Homo sapiens: one gene and its partners. The protein of the gene in region 1 purifies or fractionates together with the protein of each later gene. This does not show direct contact. Each region holds a gene or a part of one and is shown on either strand. Other genes may lie near its edges.

Region 1 (5,159 bases):
TTGGAGTTTTTAAAACTTCAAGAAAAAAGTTAGGGAGGAAACAAATGAAATAAAATTGGCAAAGGCTGATACTTAATTGTTGAACCTGGGTTTATTGGCTCATTCTACCAGCCTTTGTGTATGTTTGGAAATGTCCACTAAGGTAAAATTTAATAAATAAACTGTGGGGGAAAGTTAGATTTTAGAGGCTGCTTTTAAAGCTTTACTATTGTCAGAGAGGTTTGGTTTCAATATCACTCTGTAAAATGAACAGTTTTAAAACTTATTTATACAAAAAATACAATCATCTAGCTTATATACATCTTCATTTTAGTATACAAACAATTTAGCTCATGCAAAAGATTCTATTAACTTAAAGTCATAAAATGTACTTACTTTTACATATAATTAAATGATGCAATTAACCAGTAGTAACCACTGAGTTTAAAAGTGTATTTTTCGGCCGGGCGCAGTGGCTCATGCCAGTAATCCCAGCACTTTGGGAGGCCGAGGCGGGTGGATCACGAGGTCAGGAGATCAAGACCATCCTGGCTAACACGGTGAAACCCCGTCTCTACTAAAAATACAAAAAAATTAGCCAGGCATGGTGGTGGGCGCCTGTAGTCCCAGCTACTCGGGAGGCTGAGGCAGGAGAATGGTGTGAATCCGGGAGGCGGAGGTTGCAGTGAGCCGAGATTGCACCACTGCACTCCAGCCTGGGCCACAGAGCTAGACTCCGTCTCAAAAAAATAAAGTGTGTTTTTCACCGGACACGGTGGGTTTGTGCCTGTAATCCCAGCACTTTGGGAGGCAGAGGCAGGAGGATCGCTTAAGGCCAGAAGTTAGAGGACAGCCTGGGAAACATAGCAAGATCCCTATCTCTACAAAATAAAAAAAAAATTAGCTGGGCATAGGGGCGCGAGCCTGTAGTCCTAGCCACTCAGAGGCTGGGGTAGGAGGATCACTTAAGCCCAGAAGTTCGAGGATGTGGTGAGCTATGATCGCCCACTGCACTCCAGCCTGGCTGACAGAGTGACACTTTGCCTCTAAAAAACAAAATTAACAAGGTGTTTGTCTCATGACTTACAGCACTTACAGATGCTTGATGAAGTCCTGGGGCACCTTCCTCCATGTGCTCTGCCCACTCGGGTCTGCTGGCCTTGACCTGGTCCTTGCAGCCCACAGGACCCATTGCTGGGAGGCCCCCCAGGGTAGCCCGGTCCTCCAATTTCCTATTGCTTTATTTAACAGCCTCTTTAATAAACCTCACACGTAAAGATGTAAGAAATTAAATCACCATTAAAGACTATTTCAGCCTTGGAGGAAGAATACTATTTTTAGAAATGAGTTTTTATATTAAAATCACAGAACAATTTGCAACACTGGGTTGCAAAGTGTCTTCTTTAGTGCTGATAAAAGGGGCTCAGTCCCTATTCTGGTAGTTAGAAAAGCAGATTTAGAAGGTGCTAGAAAATACCCCAAATCACTCCTTCCTTGGGTTCCGTTTGGATTCAGCAGGCTCCTCTGGCGATGGGCGGGCGCCGCAGTTGCGCCTGTGCTCCTAAGGGCTCGCCTTAAATACCTGTGGGTATCTCCTCATCATATCGGTGCCATTCATGTTTCTCAGAGATCTAACTGCCAAAGGACTTAAACTCTCTAAGCCTCCCTTTCTCTCTTTTCACGTGGGGGATAATAATAGTGCCTACCCTAGAGGGTCCTATAGTAAATGGGGGCAGTGCCCCTCCCCCACTTGCTGGGCACAGAGAAGAGGCTCCATCTGCAGAGTAAGGGGGCCTCTCTTAAAGCAGGGGTGACGTGCTTTCCCTTATCCTCGTGTTCCCCACTCAGGGCGGCTGGGACCCCAGGCTGTTGCCTGTGCCCCACACAGGAGCTCCCTCTCCCACAGGGCCCCTCACCATCTCCCAGTACAAGTAGTATGCAGTAGAAAATCTCCACCTTCCTGTGAAAGCTTTTTGTTCATGTTGGGATTTTTTTTTTTTTCCAGTGAGAAAATGGCTCGTCACCTTGGATACCAATGTTTTACATCAGGGATTGGTCACTCCTGCTGCTGTCAGCACTGTAAACACTGCTGGGGGGAGTCAGCCCAAGTCCCCACCCCCCAGCCAGGTCTCATAGAGGGAATTGTTCTTCAGGCTCGGAGGGGCCTGCCTGTCACTGCGCCCCCGACCCTAGCTCAGGGACTGCAGAACTCAAGATACCATCCCGTTTCTCCTGGCTGAGGAAGGGAAGGGAACATCCACATCTTCTGTACTCGTCCATTCTGTGTCCCCGGGGCCTGGAGTAAAGACACCTTCAAATGCAGAGACTCTTCAGATTCAGCTTTCCTGGAAACTGATCTTCAATGCACTAAGAGAAGGAGACTCTCAAACCAAAAATGACCTGGAGGCACCATGTCAGGTAAGGACAGAGGTCATGAGATCTTAGAGCCAAGAAGGGGTCTTAAGAGCCTCAGAATAAATCGTAGTGCATGAGCCACTGTTCATTAAAGGAGGTGTACACTTTCTGTCTCAAAATCTTTCTAAGCCATAGCAAAATTAACAAAAACCTACAAGTTACAAAATGATTGCCTTATTCATTATAATTATTTTACATAATTTTATATTTATATATAATGATGGCATTGTATTTTTATGTGTATGTGAATTTCTGCTTATACTTCTAAAGATACTTTCAACTTCAATGATTTTCTTTAAATATTCTAGGCTTCTGTTTACGGTCAGTTTGGCATTACAGATCATCAATTTGGGAAACAGTAAGAAACATTTTATTCATAATTTCAGTTTTAATTGCATAAAATATTTGTTTCTCAATCATTATCAGTCTCACATTTTCAATATTTTTTAAAGGCTATCAAAGAGAGAAACATAACGGCGGTAGAGAGGAAGTCACCAAGGTTGCCACTCAGAAGCACCGACAGTCACCGCTCAACTGGACCTCCAGTCATTTCGGAGAGGTGACTGGGAGCGCCGAGGGCTGGGGGCCGGAGGAGCCGCTCCCCTACTCCCGGGCTTTCGGAGAGGGTAAGTTGCAGCGCTGCCCACAAAATCCGGGGCGTCATCTCAGTCTGCGGACTCAGAGTTTAGGACCTGAGAATATGTAGGATAAATTCAGGATAAAATCCAAGGAGAGCATTTTGTTATCTTCAAATGATGATGCACTTACAAAGCTATAAAGCTAGAGACAGTTCCTAGTGAGGTGTTAAAAAGCTTTACTCTTTCATTGGTAAAACGTTGTATTTGCTCTTCAATGGTTATTTTGCTGCAGATCTAGAGAACTGTGATTTAAATGTGTTGAAAATAAATATCCCAAGCCAAGATAACAGCGGACTCTTGCTTGGCTTCTCCCAGACACCGCGTCCCCAGGAGGCCCCTCGCCGGTGGGTTTGGCGTCATCACACCCGTGGGTGGTCCCGCCCAGGAGGCCTGTGCTTAATCACTGTCAGGTGAAGCCACAGCCAGAGGTTAACATGTGAAAGGAAGGGAGAGAGCAAGCCCGGCTTGCAGGCCGCACCCCTGATAGTTTGTTTCACATCCCTAACAAGCAGGGTTTACCTGAGCAAACACACTTGGCTGGAGGCTGATTTTACTGCCTCCCCTGGGCGGCCACGTTCGGCCCCGTCCCTGCGGGGAGGGCCACGGGCCGCGGGGGGCGCGGGGCTGACGCCCGGGTGACCCCGCAGGTGCGTCCGCGCGGCCGCGCTGCTGCAGGAACGGCGGTACCTGCGTGCTGGGCAGCTTCTGCGTGTGCCCGGCCCACTTCACCGGCCGCTACTGCGAGCATGACCAGAGGCGCAGGTGGGCACAGGGGTGCGCGGGGTGGGGACGGGGGTGGGCGCCGGGTGAGGGACCTGCGGGTCTGGGGGCGCGGGAGTAGGCGTCAGGAGAGGGGCGCGCGGGTGCGGGGGCGCGGGAGTGGGCGCCGGGCGATGGGCGCGCGGGTTGGGGGGCGCGGGAGTTGGCGCCGGGGGAGGGATGCGCGGGTGGGGGAGCGGCGCAGGAGTGGGCGCCGGGCGAGGGGCGCGCGGGCCACCGCATTGATGCAGGTCCCCGTCTTCTCAGTGAATGCGGCGCCCTGGAGCACGGAGCCTGGACCCTCCGCGCCTGCCACCTCTGCAGGTGCATCTTCGGGGCCCTGCACTGCCTCCCCCTCCAGACGCCTGACCGCTGTGGTAAGAGGCCCTGTGATTCGGTCCCCAGCTCACCCCCGCACGCGGTTGCGCCTTCATTGCGGCTCACCCTCCATACCGATCCACAGTGCATCTTCCAGTGCCAGGCCACATAGCATTTAGCAAAGTAGATCGATTCATCATTGAAGAAAGTCGCATTCATTGGGAATCATATAGTGAATTAAATTTTGTTTTGAAGTTCTCATATCCAGATTGCTGAGTTTAAAAATGATTTCCAAACCATGTCCTCACATGTCCGTTTCAGTGAGCAGAATTTCAGGAGATGACCAGCTGGTAATCGGAGAGGAAGCTGGGAGACAAGTTAGCTGCGTAAATCTCAGGTGGTTTCCCTGCACTAGGCCAGCACCATCTGCTCAGCTGTGGGACCAGCAGGGACACAGGCAGGAGCCGCATTTCCCTCTGGAATCCTGTGCCTTCTCTCCTCTCCTCTTTGGTGATCACTGGCTGGGGCTAGCAATGGAGGGCACAGCTAGTGAAGGCCCAGCCTCTTGGCCCCAGCCCGAGCTCTGCCCTCTCCCAGGCCCGGGTGGGCTGGTGGTGCAGTGTCCAGAGGCACACCTGATGAAGCCAAGGCCCCTGATCCACTCTCCTGCCCCCTCCCTCCACTTCAGTCAGCCCTGGGCACCTCCATCTGTCAAAGAGCACAGCCCCGCAACCCCACTTCCCACCTGTCGCTCTCAGGCCGTCCTGCTAGGGCTGCATGGAGGGCAGCACCAGTGGCCCAAAGATCTTCAACCCGGCTCCCCCAGCCTCCCTCTTGCTCTTGGAGGCCCACAATGGAGGAGTACACAATGCATGCTTAGCTCTCCTTCACCTTCCTGTCCTCTCTTCTCTCCCTGGTAGGACCAGCAGTCAAGGGACACTCTTAATAGAGGCACAGCCCCCAACCCCACTTCCCACCCTGCTCCCTTCTCCTCAGCTAGCTCTGCATGGTGCCAGCAGGGAAGAGCACTCCCCGCCTGCCGTGCAGACC
Region 2 (4,488 bases), on another chromosome or scaffold:
GTTCTCCCTCTTACAGGAGCTCTTTGGGCTCTCTATAAGGTGGGCCAGGGAGAGAGCAGGGCATTAAGCAGCAGCTGAAAGGGACTGGGGTGGACCCAATAGCTGTTCAGACACCCAAGATCAGCCAAATTGGCTCACCAGAAACATGGCGAGCCCTACTCCCTCTGCTGGGCCTCACCTGTAGAGCTGCAGAGACAGGAGAGCCAGGTAGCACCAATGGGGAGTTGCAGCTACTGTGCACCCAGGCTGGGCTGACAGGTAGTGAACAAAGTGAAGGCCACAGGGACCGCCAACACCAAGGGGAGGGCGGGTTTGTGTGCGCTGGGAGCAGGAGGGAAGAGATCTGCTAGCTGTCATTCTACTCTAGTCATTTCCTTTCCTTCGAGGGGACTTGTCCCCATTTCCAGAAGCTACCTCAGGAGTGCCTGGGCACTCTGGGGCCGGTTGTTGAGGCAATGTGGTGTGGCAGCAAGGGCTAGGGTGGGGCTCCCCAGGCCCTCCCTTAGCTGTGTGGTTCTTTCCCATCTTGGGGGCTCACTTTCCCCATCTGTTAAAATGAAGGCTTTGGGCTAGATATTTTCTATATTTCCAGCTCTGAAATCCCAGGCCGAGGGAGTACGAGCACATCTAGGGTCTCCTGGAGGCCCCCTGTGCTCAGTTCCCTGGATGAAGAGCAAATGAGGCCCTAAGGCAGGAGCTCACTTCTGTGGACTTCACCCTCTTGGAGTCAGAGGCAGGGCTGCCTGGGGACTGAATTCCTCTGTGCTCATAAGCAGCAAAGCCCATTGCTCCCCTCTGACCACACTTCTCCATCATGAGTGGGCCAGAGAGACGTGAGCAAAGGGCGACCCCGTAGTCACCAGCTTCAGCAGGCAGCGGCAGGGAGGGCTGAATCCCTGAGCCATTCCAGAGGCTGCCTCATCTCCCCCCAGCAAAATGCCCCCAGCCTTCATTCCTGTAAGCAAGAAGCCTTCCTGAGCCTCCCCTCTGAAATGGCACTGGCCTCCATTTTACCTCTCTGTGATTTCTCCACCTGGCATTGCAGTGCACATGGACCTGACTGCCTGCCCTACTGGACTGCAGACCCCTCAAGCTAGGCATTAGTTCTCACCTCTCCATCCCGTGTGCGCTGGGGCACCCAGCATCATGGATATCAGTGGATATCCATGAACTGTTGGGTTCCAGGTACCATGTGAAATGCAGCAGATTTCTGGAATCTCAGAACTAAAAGGGCCTTTGAGAGTCATCTAGTCCAAGTCCAAACCTGCCACTCAAAGTCTCCTGAAAGGTGGACACGGCCAGAGGCAGGGCTTGCCTCTTCCCCAAGGATAGCCAGTTCTACCCCAGCTCCTAATCCTGTGAGGTTGGCTCTTGCTTACAGGAGTAAAGATTTCCTTAAGGCCAAGGCTCTTTCTCCTACATTTACCACCCTCACTTGTCTGCTGAAGACCATGGGGATCTGTGAATGACCAGCCCTCCAGACTACCTCCTAGCTGGGTCAGGGCTCCTGCCAAAGTGGATCTTTGCTGTCAGCACAACCCAGGTCTCCTGATATGGTCCCCAAACCCCCACTGAAGAGGCACAGATAGGAGAGAAGCACCCAAGAGGCTGCAGGAAAGTGAATGTTTCCAGCATTGGCCAGCACCGCCCCAGGGGCTCCAGGTAGACACTTGAGTAGGGGCAGGTGGCAGCACCAGGGTCTCTGATAGCCTTCCCTTGGCCCATCAGGGCTGAAACACGGCCTTCCCAGGCAGCTGCTGGCAGGGGCTGGGGGACCCAGCCATCCCCCACTGGTCTGCTGCCAAGAGTCACCGTCATAGTCTACCACGAGGTGGCACCGGGCGGCAGCTGTCCTCACAACTTCTTCTTCTTCACCACAGGGATGGGCACAACTTGGAAGATTTTGGCTTTGTGATCCTCAGTGTCCAGTGTCACCCAGATGGGCCGGAAGCTGCCTTTGAAGCCAACGAATGCCATTTGCTCTGAAAAGCAATGATGAGTCTCCTGAGCAAAAGCCCTATGAGAGGACGGCTGCCCCACCCCGTTCCATGGCTCCCCATCGCCAGCCCCCCACGCCCACCAGGTACCGCCTAGCCACACTGCACTGTGGCCCCTTGGGAAGAGCTCTGTGCTCAGCTACTGATGGTGCCTGACATGTGTTTGTATGGGGCAGGCAGGGTCTCACCTGAGCCTCACTGCCACCTAGGCAGGGTGATGGCTTTGTTGTAGACAGGGGAGCCATGCACAGCAGGAAATGGGGCAAACTGTAAGGGAGGAGACCTCCTAGGAACCTGCCTACCTTTGAGCTGCCCCTAGGACAACCAGCAAGTCCCTGCCCCTCTCTGAAGCCCAGTGTTCCCATCCATCAAATGATGGCATTGATCTACAAGATCTCCTTCCCCACTCTATCACTCTGTGGCTCTAGAAAGAGTTCTGAGAGGTGAAGAAATTTGACCAAGAGTGTGGAGTAAATGGTGCACCCCAGATTAGAACTCTAAACCCCTGAAACCCACACAGCACTCTCCATCTTGCAGTTCACAGCTTGAGCATCCGAGGGGCATGGGAATCCACGTCTATACTCAGCCCATCTTGGCAGGCAACATGCATTTATCACCACCGGGAAAGTGCCATTCAACTTAGGTCACCTTACATACATCAGCTTTTGGCAACCGGGATCTTAATTTAAAAGACAGAGGCTCCAAAATGATTTCAGGACTGGGCTGGAAAGGATACTTCTCTTTTCCTTATGTCCTCCTTTGGCTGGTTTGAAGGGTTTGCATTGCTTCTGATTTTTCTCATTGCCCCATATGATGGGTTTCTGATTTTGATGTTTTCCATAGTGAGGATGGTGTATAACTAAGAAGCCCAGCTTTGAGTTAGGAAGATTAGGATCCAAGTCCTAACCTTAAGCAAGTGGCTTGGCTGTTAAATTCTTGGTGTCCTCATCTTAAATGGAAATAATAGTACCTGCTGCACAGGTTATTAATGAGTAAGTGAGATAATTATAACATGTTGTGCAAAGTGCAAGGCTGAACATTGAATAGCAACCACAATGATCATTATCATTATTGCCCGTGGAGCTTCTCTGCCGCCCATACAGCCTCTCTGAGGACTCTCCCTGCACCTAGTTTTTGTGATGATAATGGGTGTCATGCTGACATGTCCCTCCTGGATGGCTTCTTCCAGCACAGCCAGCAAGCCTGTGCTAGGCTTCACCACCGAAGCTGCCTGGCCTTGGACAAGCCATGTAGGTTCTCTGGGCTTTAGTTTTCTGGAACAAATAAGAGTTTTGCAAGCTGCAAAGGACTGTACAAACGCTAGGCATCAGCTAGAATGTTGAAGAAGATGCAGGACCCCTGGCCAGTCTGAATAGCAGGAATTGGGTAGGAGGGTGAGACTAAGCCACTTTTCTTATGATACTTTTGTTGAATAAAGGGCCACTTTCCAAGCAAATGAGTCAACAAATATAGCAATTTTCTTTCAGTGGCTGGTGGCAAGTTATAATAAATTTGCTGCAGTGCAGGGGTGGTAAACAGGTGGCATCTTGCCCATCCATTCCAGTAGACCACTAGTTGTGTGGGGGATTCTTAGGTTGTACCCACGTTTAGTACAAAGCATGTTCTCAACTCAGCAAAAGATGACAGCACCCTCCATGCCAGGCATTTGCCTTCTCTGGTTTTGGGGTCAGTTTAAACCCCAGTTCAAACCCTTACCTTTCAACTTGAGACCCCTGTCTGCCCCAAGCTTTTCCAGCACTCTGGTCCATGGGCCTCTGGAGACGTATCTTCCCTTTGATGCCATAAGCACTATGGAACTGTGTGAGAAGAAACCAATTAGACCAGAGGGAGAGAGCAAACTGGAGAAAGTGGGCATGGGGAGGGATGTTGGTTTGTGCATGGTGGGACTGGAGTTAGCAGTGCCCAGAGGCCTGTCCAGGGATTCGGGAAAGGGCAGCCTCTCCTGTGTTCTGAGCTGACGGGCTCTTTCCATGTGGTGACGAACATCCTGAGCTCCCTCCCACACATCTGGCCACAGTTGGTGCCCACAGCCTTCTCCAAGCCTGGACTTGGCTCACCGCGTTTACATGTCTCTCTCCAAACAGAGGAGAGGATGTAAGCAGAGCGTACCATGCCAGGGCTCGGCACACAGTAGGACTTCGATATGTATCTCTTCCCTTGAATGTTCTCAACCCTGGTTAGGTAAGACCAGATAGAAATGTGGTGATGGAGGAAGGAAGGAGAAAGGGAAGAGAAAGAGAGGAGGTGCGGGAAGGCGGAGGGGAGCATCTGTCAAATCATAAAACCATCCAGGAGCTCCTGAAGGTTCTAGATCCTGAAGGTTCTAGAGACCAGCTCCATTTGGCATCCCCTGGGATTTCATTAGAACCACAGAATTCCTCCATTGCAGACTTCCTGAATCAGAATCTGCATTTTTACAAGATCTGCAGGTGATCATGTATACATTAAAGCTCGAGAAGCCCCATGCTAG
Region 3 (4,488 bases), on another chromosome or scaffold:
CTTAGAATTCAGAGGTCAGTAAACTTTTTTTTTTTTTTTTTTTTTTTGAGATGGAGTCTCGCTTTGTAGCCCAGGCTGGAGTGCAGTGGTGCAATCTCGGCTCACTGAAACCTCCGCCTCCTGGGTCCCAGTTCAAGCAATTCTCCTGTCTCAGCCTCCCAAGTAACTGGGATTACAGGCACGTGCCACCATGCCCAGCTAATTTTTGTATTTTTAGTAGAGACAGGGTTTCACCATGTTGGCCAGGCTGGTCTTGAACTCCTCGTGATCCATCTGCCTTGGCCTCCCAAAGTGCTGGGATTACAGGCGTGAGCCACCGTGCCCGGCCAGCAAACTTTTTCTATGAAGGATTAGATAGTTCTGTTTGAGGGGGCCATATGATCTTTGTCCCAACTACCCACAGTTCTGCCATCACAGTGAAAGTAGCCATAGACATATGCAATGAATGGGCACTGCTGTGTTCCAATAAAACTACAAAACAGGTGGGCAGGCCAGATTTGGCCTAGGACTGCCAACCCCCAGACTTAGGCCATCGTACGTGACCTTGCAAGAGCTTGGTGAAGCAAGATTAAAACAAGTGAAGCAGCCAGGACTCACCATTTGCCCGAGGTTATCCAAGCAATTCGCATTGAGTCAGAATTAATGTCAGGTCTCCCCACTCCCAATCCTGTGTCCCACTTTACGTATCAGCACAGAGGCATAGAGAAGATCAAAGCCCGGAAACCCTAGATGTGTGACTTGGTAGAAAGAGTAACAGATTGATTGTTGAGAAATCTGAGTATAGTCCAGACTCTTCTACCAATATTGCTATGTGACCTTCAGTGGTCAATTGTCTCCATTTGAGGGCCCAATCTCCTCATCCATAAAACAAAAGAGGTATGCCTAGCTCTAGGTGACGCCTTAGGCCAAGGAGCTGTGACACTGTCTGGCTCTGCTTGGTGATTTGCCCTGCCCCACCCAACACTCACTTGACAGCAGTGGTGAGGCGCAGGGGCCTGACGCCGGGCGTGGCAAAGCGCAGAGTGTTCATGTAAGCCACATGCTGCAGGGCATGGTTGAAGGTCTCCACATCATCCCCCTCCAGGGTGAGCAGGGACTGTGAGGGGTTCACGTGGACCTGGGCCCCAGACACAGATACAGCTGAGAGCAGGGCCAGGAGGTGGCAGAGGAAGGGAGCAGAGGTAGAGGGGTAGGGCAAGGGGGTGGGGCAAGGGGCATGCTGGGAAGAACAGGGCTAGAGGATGGGGCAATACCTTCATGCCTTTGCCCAGGCTCTCGAAATCCCTATAGTCCAGCCCCTCCCGACATGCATAGAGGCACTCGATGACCTCGCGGCTCTCCAGGCGACCTGAGCGCACGCTGAAACCAGCCAGGTAGCCATGGAAGTAGTGGTGGATCGACAAAGGGTCTCCTAGGGTAGGAACACAGGAGCAGGACGGGAGGTGAGAAGAGAGGAGGATGGAAAAGGACGAAGGCTGAGAGAAAGGGAAAGGAGAGAAAGAGCAGAAGAGTTGAGAAAGAAAAAAAGGAGAAATGTGGAAACCAAAAAAAAAAAAAAAAAGGAAAAAAGAGAGATGAGAGGTGAGGGAGAAGTGAAGGTAAGGGGGGAGGCTAGAGAAGGGAGAAAATGAGACAAAAGAAGACAGAATAAAGCCAGGGGAGAAGAAGAAGGGTGAAAAGTAGAAGCAACAAAGATGAGAGGGAGGAAGAGAAGGAAACAGGACCAACAGGAGGAAAGAGTCAAAACAAGGAGGGAGGGGGAGGCGGCAGGAGAGAACGTCTTTCCAGTGACATGCAGGGAGACCAGGATGGATGTGAGCGAGCTTCACAGATGCCCAGACCTTCCCCTTCTGCGTGTCTGACTCCTGACTCCTGCCACCTCCCTTCTACCATGTGGAAAGCCACCAAGAGAGCCCCATTCTTCATTCTGTGGGCAGGACAGGATACCCAGAACCCAGCCAAGCTGCCTCTAGCCTTACCACTCCAGGAGCCCCTGCCCTGCTGTATTTCTTGGAGGCTCTGCCCCCTGGTGGCCTAGGAGGCTGTCACAGGCTGGATAGGATTTGGGGTGGAAAAGGGATCTCAGAACAGAAAGTGAAGATGAGAACTCTCTGGTCTCCAGTTCTTACACACGGAGTACCTTGGGTGGTGTCTGTACTGTTGTCTCCCTTTTCCTTCTCTTTGTTCTTCTCCTCTGGGGATAAAAAAAAAAAAAAAACAGTGCTGGTGAGCTCAGGGATGTGGAGAGATTGACAGAGAGGAATGAGATGTCTTCCTCTCATCCCCATGAGTGCTCTCATGCCCACATGGGATTCTGACCCTGCCCATGTATAACTTGCAACCTCTCAGCTCAGCCCCAACCCTTCTTTTGTCATGTTCCAACCTCTCCAGCCTCTATTATAGACAAACCCCCAAATACGATATGCTGCTGAGGAAACACGTGGGCTCTGGTAAGACAGACAGGCACATGTGCACACACACACTCCCAAGAGGAGAAAAATTTTTTCAATGGCTTAAAAGTTGGAAGACCGAGGACACTCTAAGGGGTTACTCTCCTTGAGCAGGGGAATGGGCTATGGAAGTCATCATCACTTTGATGGAAAAAAGTGGAAACTGGCTGGAGTTACAGAGAGAGAGTCTGGGGATGCGTGAGAAGTTAATTCCTCCAAGTCAGAGGTGATGACCCATTGGATTAGTGGGAGATACGGGAGGGAGGCTGTGGTCCCTTCCCATGGAGATCTTCAGAGTCACCCTGCACAGCTGCAGAGAGATGCAGGAGGCGGCCTCAGCTGCTGGGTCAGACTGCCCTTGCTCCTCACCAGCCTACCTCCCTTCCCAAATCCTGAACCACTGGAGTCTTCACTGAGAAGCTTACCAGTCCAGCAGGCCCCAATCATGAGAGCAGGCTCCCTTCGGGGTGGGTGGATGAGGCCATTGTCATGGATGAGGGCAGGGTCGAAGGAGATGCCGTCGGTATAGAGTGTGACTGTGGGGAACTCGAGGTTCAGAGCGTAGTGGTGCCACTCATCATCACAGACCTGGGAGAGTAGGGTAGGGGCAAGAGCCTCTCAGGTAATTCGTCTTCAGAGAGCTAACCCTAGGCACTGCCCCATCTCCTGGGAGACAGGGGACAGTCCCTTTATTCCCAGTTCTACCAACAGGGCTTACTAGTGCTTTGCTGCCTATCCAGCTCGAGGAATAACATCCTTGTCCAAAATCTATCAGGCAACCAACCTAGTAGCAAAGATTCCACTCTTCAGGTAAATCGTTAAAGCTATAAATATTCCTAAGAGGAGTAACACACTTTCATGAATAAATTCCCTGCCCCCCGAACTTATGTATTACATATGTGTGTAAGGCACTGGAAACTCTAGAGATGGGGTTTCCTTCTGTCCCCCAGGCTGGAGTGCAGTGGTGCAATCATAGCCCACTGAAGCCTCAAACCCCTCGGCTCAAGCAATCCTCCCACTTCAGCCTCTGGGGTAGCTGGGACTACAGGTATGTGCCACCATGTCCAGCTAATTTTTTTATTTTTTAGAGATGAGCTATCACTATGTTGCCTAGGCTGGTCTCCAACTCCTGGCCTCCAGTGATCCTCTCAGCCTCCCAAGTAGCTGGGATCACAGGTTATCTCTAGGATAGCTTCTAACCCAACATTAAGCACTAAAATAAATATTGCTTCCCTTTGCAGTCTCTCCTAGGGCCAGCCAAGATGGAATGGGGGATGGTCAGAGGAAAAAGGGGCAGAGAGTACTCTGCCTCATCCAGTTCCAAATGTTGGGGTCCCTCAAGGCTCAGACCTAGGCCCTCTTCTCTTTCCTCTCTACACTCTTTTCCTAGAAGTCACCTCATCTGTTGCCATGGGTTTGGGTACCATAGTTATACACTGGTAACTCCAAAATCCACATCTCCAGCCCATAACTCTCCTCTGAATGCCAGATTCTCCACTTGGATGCCCACAAGTATCTCACATTTAACACGTGTAAGGTGCAAGTCCATGCCCTTTCCCAACTCCCTCAGTTTCTCCCCAGGCAGTATAAATGCTCCATCATCCATCTAGCTGCTCAAGTGGCTGACGTAGGAGACAACTTTGATCTTCCCTTTCCCTCAGCCTCCACATCCAGTCCATTAGCAGGTGCTGTTGATCCCAGGTCCAAACAGAGCTACAAGCTGCAGGTTTCTGTGCAGGTCTCTCCGTCTCCATTGCCACACATCAGTCATGTCTCCAACCCCTTTCATGAAGACTGTTGCAACAGTCCTGTTTACTGTCACCATTAGATACCTTCAATACAACCATCCCACAGTTGCCAAGGGGATCTTGTTAAAATGTAAATCTGGCCAGGCGCAGTGGCTCACGCCTGTAATCCTAGCTCTTTAGGAGGCCAAGGTGGGTGGATCACGTCAAGAGATCAAGACCATCCTGGCCAACATGGTGAAACCCCATCTCTACTAAAAATACAAAAATTAGCTGGGCGTGGTGGCACACGC
Region 4 (4,488 bases), on another chromosome or scaffold:
GCTAGTGTTATCTCATACTATGGCACTGTTGGGCTCACATTGATTGGTCAATAAATTCTTGGTTATTCACTGATCGGGGTCAGAAGTATGGATGAGCAAAATGAGAAGGGGTGTTATCACATATCTTTTGAAAGAAGTTTGAGGTTGGGCACGGTGGCTCACACCTGTAATCCCAGCACTTTGGGAGGCCGAGACGGGTAGATCACCTGAGGTCAGGAGTTTGAAATCAGCCTGGTCAACATGGTGAAACCCTGTCTCTACTAAAAAATACACACAAAATAATAGCCGGGCATGGTGGCAGGTGCCTATAGTCCCAGATACTCAGGAGGCTGAGGTGGAGAATCACTTGAACCTGGGAGGTGGAGGTTGCAGTGAGCTGAGATCGCGCCACTGCACTCCAGCCTGGGCAACAGAGTGAGACTCTGCCTCAAAAAAAAGAAAAAAGTTTAAAGCCATATGTTCCCCCCTTTTTTTTTTTTTTTTGATCCACCTGCCTCGGCCTCCCAAAGTGCTGGGATTACAGGTGTGAGCCACTACACCTGGCCTCCATTTGTTCCCTTTTTATGGTTACTTCTGTTAAAAATCTGGCCACTGATAAACCTCTAACTCTACTATTTCTTCCACTGGAAATACATGTGCAATATGCTGTTTGCTGTCTCTCAAATATGTAAAAAATGTGATTCATCAAGCACCTTAAACATAACAGCTATTCAATAGAAGCTGCACAATTAACTATAAAGTTGACAGAGTAAAACTCTCCCTTGGAAACTAGAAGTCACTGATTTAAAAAACAGAAGGGAAGTAAAGATGAACGGAAAGTTAGTATACCGACGGTCATACTTTATTATCCATAGAAACAACAGATAGATAACAAACACGAAGTCCCTACTGACTTACATGGGAGCCTCTATCTGTTCTTCTGAGTGAGTTTCATGACAAACAATGGAACCAAACACTTTCGAGAAATGAGGCTAGACCATGGGAAATGCAACACAAATGTGGCCTCTGCCCACTTGCAACACAGGAAATAAAACAAGTCTAGGGAGAAAGTAAACTATGATAAAGAAAAAGTGGGGATAAAAGGTCCCTCTGCTTTAGACAAACCAAATCAGAAATAGTGTTCCTTTTCCCAAATTTCATGGGGTTTTCCTCAATTCACTCTTACCCCATAGAATCTTCCATCCACTCTCTTCTAGCCTTCCTGCCTTCACCCCCAAATGCTTTCCTTGTCTCTAGGGAACCAAGGCCCATCCCTGCCGATACAACATTTACATGAACCTGAGCACTGACAAGACATTCCTTGCCCCCAATTCCCCAAGCCCACAGGTGTATCCTAGCTACTCCAATCTTCCATGATGAGTCTAAAAGATCACCCCCTTGCATAGCCCTCTAGGCTATCTCCAGCCTATCCCTTCAATGCACGGCTTGTACACACACCGTGTGGAGTTATCTGGCACCTTCAGGTTCACTTTTAGCCACCCTGGGCCCCCGGAATATGGTGACAGATGGGACAGCTGATACCCAGCACTATGGCTGAATATATACATAGTAGGAGCTCAACAAACTTTTGGAATGAAGGTGTTCCCTAACTCCAAGCTTTCTTGGACCCCTTCCTCCCATGCTCTGTAAGATCTTCAAGACCCACCTCTAATTCCTGTAGGTTTCTCAGGCCTCTCACGCCCTAGCCTCCATCTCTAGCCCTATAGACACTCAAGCAATCTTACACTACTTACCAGCTCTCAACTTCATCTCCTCTGTCTTTTTGCTCAATCACTGTGATGCTAATAGAGACACAGACCCATTTCTGGACCTCAGTCCTCATCCTTACCATTATCCATCAGACTATGTCACCGGACAAAGATCTCATGCTCATATCCTAGAGGACCACTCTCCATCCACCCATGTGGCTCTCCCTGTACTTACCTTACTGAAGGAGAAGACTGGGATGGCAGGCTCCATCCATTTAGGAACCTGAGGATAATCTCGTACATTGATCACCATCTCCATGTCAGGGAGACGCCCGATCACTTCCAAAATAAAGTGCTCAACACCACTACACCTGTCAACCAGACATACCATAAATTCAGCAGAGTAGTGCCTGCAGGCTCTAGGACAAGGCGAGGTCCCATTCACATTTTAAAGTAAGACAAGCCAGTGTTCCAGTGTTCCATATCATCAGTCTACTGCAAAGTCTCCTGAAAACAATGCTTCTAAAGGGGCTATTCTGCTTTTTTGTATTGTGCAAGTTCACTCATAGCTAAGCTGCTCCAGCTTACAATACTTAATAAAATTTTCCAAATAAATCGTCATAGCTTTGAAGGGAGTATTATTGCTACTTCTACCACTTTATTCATTCCAGTTCTTTTCTTTATTTCCCTTATATGGAATAGTTTAATTAGTAGACAAGATACAAACTCTCGTAATAGCTGAAATAGCTAATTTTCCACCTGTGTTCCTTTGGCTTTGCTCCTCACAAAGACACCATTTTTATTTCCATTATAATTAAGTCTCCTAGTTTATGAGAACAGATAGAAAACCTTTCATTACCTTCAACCTGAATAAAGAACATTATCAAAATCAGTTCTGCAAGCCAGAAAAAGTGTTATATACATAATCATAAATAGTGTAACACAGCTTTCTGACTAGATTCCCTGGGAAATCAGGGATTTCTTGAAAGAAAAAGAAGATACACTGACAGTTTAGCTTGTTTCTGCCTCATCCTCTGAGGTCCTGACCAGCACTATGCTAGGGGCAATATTCAAAGGCTTGATCAAAATTTTCTGGCAGCATGGAAATAACTGATTTAAAATATTGTTTTACTACTTGGGAGACTTAGGCAGAAGGGTTATTTGAGCCCAAGAGTTCTAGACCAGCAACATAGTGACACAGTAGGCAATGTAGTGAGCTCCTCTAGCCAAAAAAAAAAAAAGTGTTTTTTATATAGGGAGATAACTGCAAAAAATATCAACAGTTCACAAACATAGGAAAAGATGCTCAACTGTATTAATAATAAAGAAATGTCAATGAAACTAGATACCAATTTTACCAATCAGATTGGCAAAGATCAAAAAGTCCAATAGTGCAGTGTTGGTAAGGGTGTGAGATCTATTCACAGCATATGATATATCGGTTGTGGAAGTGTTTAGCCTCTTTGTAGGACAATTAGATTCTATTTACCAAGATTTCTCTTTTTTTAAGGTTTTTTTTATTTGAGGCAGGGTCTCTCGCTCTGCCACTCAGGCTGAAGAGTGCAGTGGCATGATCATGGCTCACTGTGGCCTCAAAAATCCTAGGCTCAAGCAATCTTCTCACCTCAGCCTCCTGAGTAGCTGGGACTACAGGTGTGTGCCAACACACCTGGCAACTCTGTATGTGTTTGTGTGTGTGTGTGTGTGTGTGTGTGTGTGTGTGTGTGTGGAGAGACAGTCTTGGTATGTTGTCCAGACTGATCTTGAACTCTTGGGCTCAAGTGATCCTCCCACCTCAGCCTCCCAAAGTGCTGGGATTACAGGTGAGAGCCACTGTGCCCAGCCTGTTTATCAAGATTTTTTTTTTTTTTTGAGATGGAGCCTTGCTCTGTGGCCCAGGCTGGAGTGCAATGGCGCAATCTCAGCTGACTGCAACCTCCACCTCGGGTTTCAAGTGATTCTCCTGCCTCAGCCTCCCGAGTAGCTAGGATTACAGGCACAGGCCACCATGCCCAGCTAATTTTTTTATTTTTAGTAGAGATAGGTTCTCACCATGTTGGCCAGGCTGGTCTTGAACTCCTGACCTCAGATGATCTGCCTGTCTCAGCCATCCAAAGTGCTGGGATAACAGGCGTGAGCCACCTCACCCAGCCTATTTATCAAGATTTTAAAATGACATTAATTGCCCTAGTTATTATACTTTTAGGAATTTAGCCTACATATATATTTACATGAGTGTTCACAGTAACAAGGATGTTCACTGCAGCATTGCTTGCGTTATCCAAAAAGCAAAGTGATGTGGTAAGGGATAATCTAAATGTCCACTGATAGAGGGCTGAATAAAGAAATCCATATAATAAGTTATTATGCAGCCATGAAAAAGTGAGGCATTCTCTATGGACTCTTATGGAACAATCTCAAAATCTACTGTTATATGGAAAAGAAATCTAAGTGCAGAACAGAAGACAGCATGTTTTATTTTGTTGATGAGTCTAGATGCTTGTAAATGTACAGACTATTTCTAGAAGGATATACAAGACACAGAATTCTAATTGTCTTTTGAAAAGAGGTCTCAGGGACTAGCAGTCTGAGGGTCTGAGGTGGAAGAGAAACTTCCTTTTCACTGAATGTCTTTTGGAGGTATCCAAATATTTTAGCATGGTAAAATATTTGGATATTTTACATATCCAAAGTGTATGTAATACTCTTTGACACTAAAAGAAAAAAAAAACTAGTTAAAAAATGTAAAAAAATATTGCAGTACAATTTATACATTACAGCTAAAATGCTCGTATTTCTT

The links. Proteins that work in one complex are often made in the same cells at the same time.
Region 2: the proteins of CFC1 (region 1) and CEMIP purify together in Homo sapiens (affinity purification with mass spectrometry; one large-scale study listed by BioGRID and IntAct). This does not show direct contact.
Region 3: the proteins of CFC1 (region 1) and CLSTN3 purify together in Homo sapiens (affinity purification with mass spectrometry; one large-scale study listed by BioGRID and IntAct). This does not show direct contact.
Region 4: the proteins of CFC1 (region 1) and POGLUT1 purify together in Homo sapiens (affinity purification with mass spectrometry; one large-scale study listed by BioGRID and IntAct). This does not show direct contact.

The regions. Positions count from the first base shown.
Region 1 is NC_000002.12:130,596,503-130,601,661, reverse strand, and holds the start of CFC1 (cryptic protein isoform 1 precursor), read left to right. Parts: upstream 1-2,086; 5' UTR 2,087-2,374; coding exon 2,375-2,397; intron 2,398-2,702; coding exon 2,703-2,752; intron 2,753-2,846; coding exon 2,847-3,020; intron 3,021-3,264; coding exon of another isoform or gene 3,265-3,446; exon of another isoform or gene 3,447-3,664; intron 3,665-3,679; coding exon 3,680-3,794; intron 3,795-4,058; coding exon 4,059-4,168; intron 4,169-5,159. UniProt on the Homo sapiens protein: NODAL coreceptor involved in the correct establishment of the left-right axis. May play a role in mesoderm and/or neural patterning during gastrulation.
Region 2 is NC_000015.10:80,946,291-80,950,778, reverse strand, and holds part of CEMIP (cell migration-inducing and hyaluronan-binding protein precursor), read right to left. Parts: exon of another isoform or gene 3,815-4,488; coding exon 3,714-3,814; exon of another isoform or gene 1,983-3,713; coding exon 1,855-1,982; 3' UTR 1-1,854. UniProt on the Homo sapiens protein: Mediates depolymerization of hyaluronic acid (HA) via the cell membrane-associated clathrin-coated pit endocytic pathway. Binds to hyaluronic acid.
Region 3 is NC_000012.12:7,139,792-7,144,279, reverse strand, and holds part of CLSTN3 (calsyntenin-3 precursor), read right to left. Parts: intron 3,039-4,488; coding exon 2,876-3,038; intron 2,195-2,875; coding exon 2,141-2,194; intron 1,412-2,140; coding exon 1,254-1,411; intron 1,118-1,253; coding exon 969-1,117; intron 1-968. UniProt on the Homo sapiens protein: Postsynaptic adhesion molecule that binds to presynaptic neurexins to mediate both excitatory and inhibitory synapse formation.
Region 4 is NC_000003.12:119,474,884-119,479,371, reverse strand, and holds part of POGLUT1 (protein O-glucosyltransferase 1 precursor), read right to left. Parts: intron 2,060-4,488; coding exon 1,924-2,059; intron 1,039-1,923; exon of another isoform or gene 898-1,038; intron 196-897; exon of another isoform or gene 1-195. UniProt on the Homo sapiens protein: Dual specificity glycosyltransferase that catalyzes the transfer of glucose and xylose from UDP-glucose and UDP-xylose, respectively, to a serine residue found in the consensus sequence of C-X-S-X-P-C.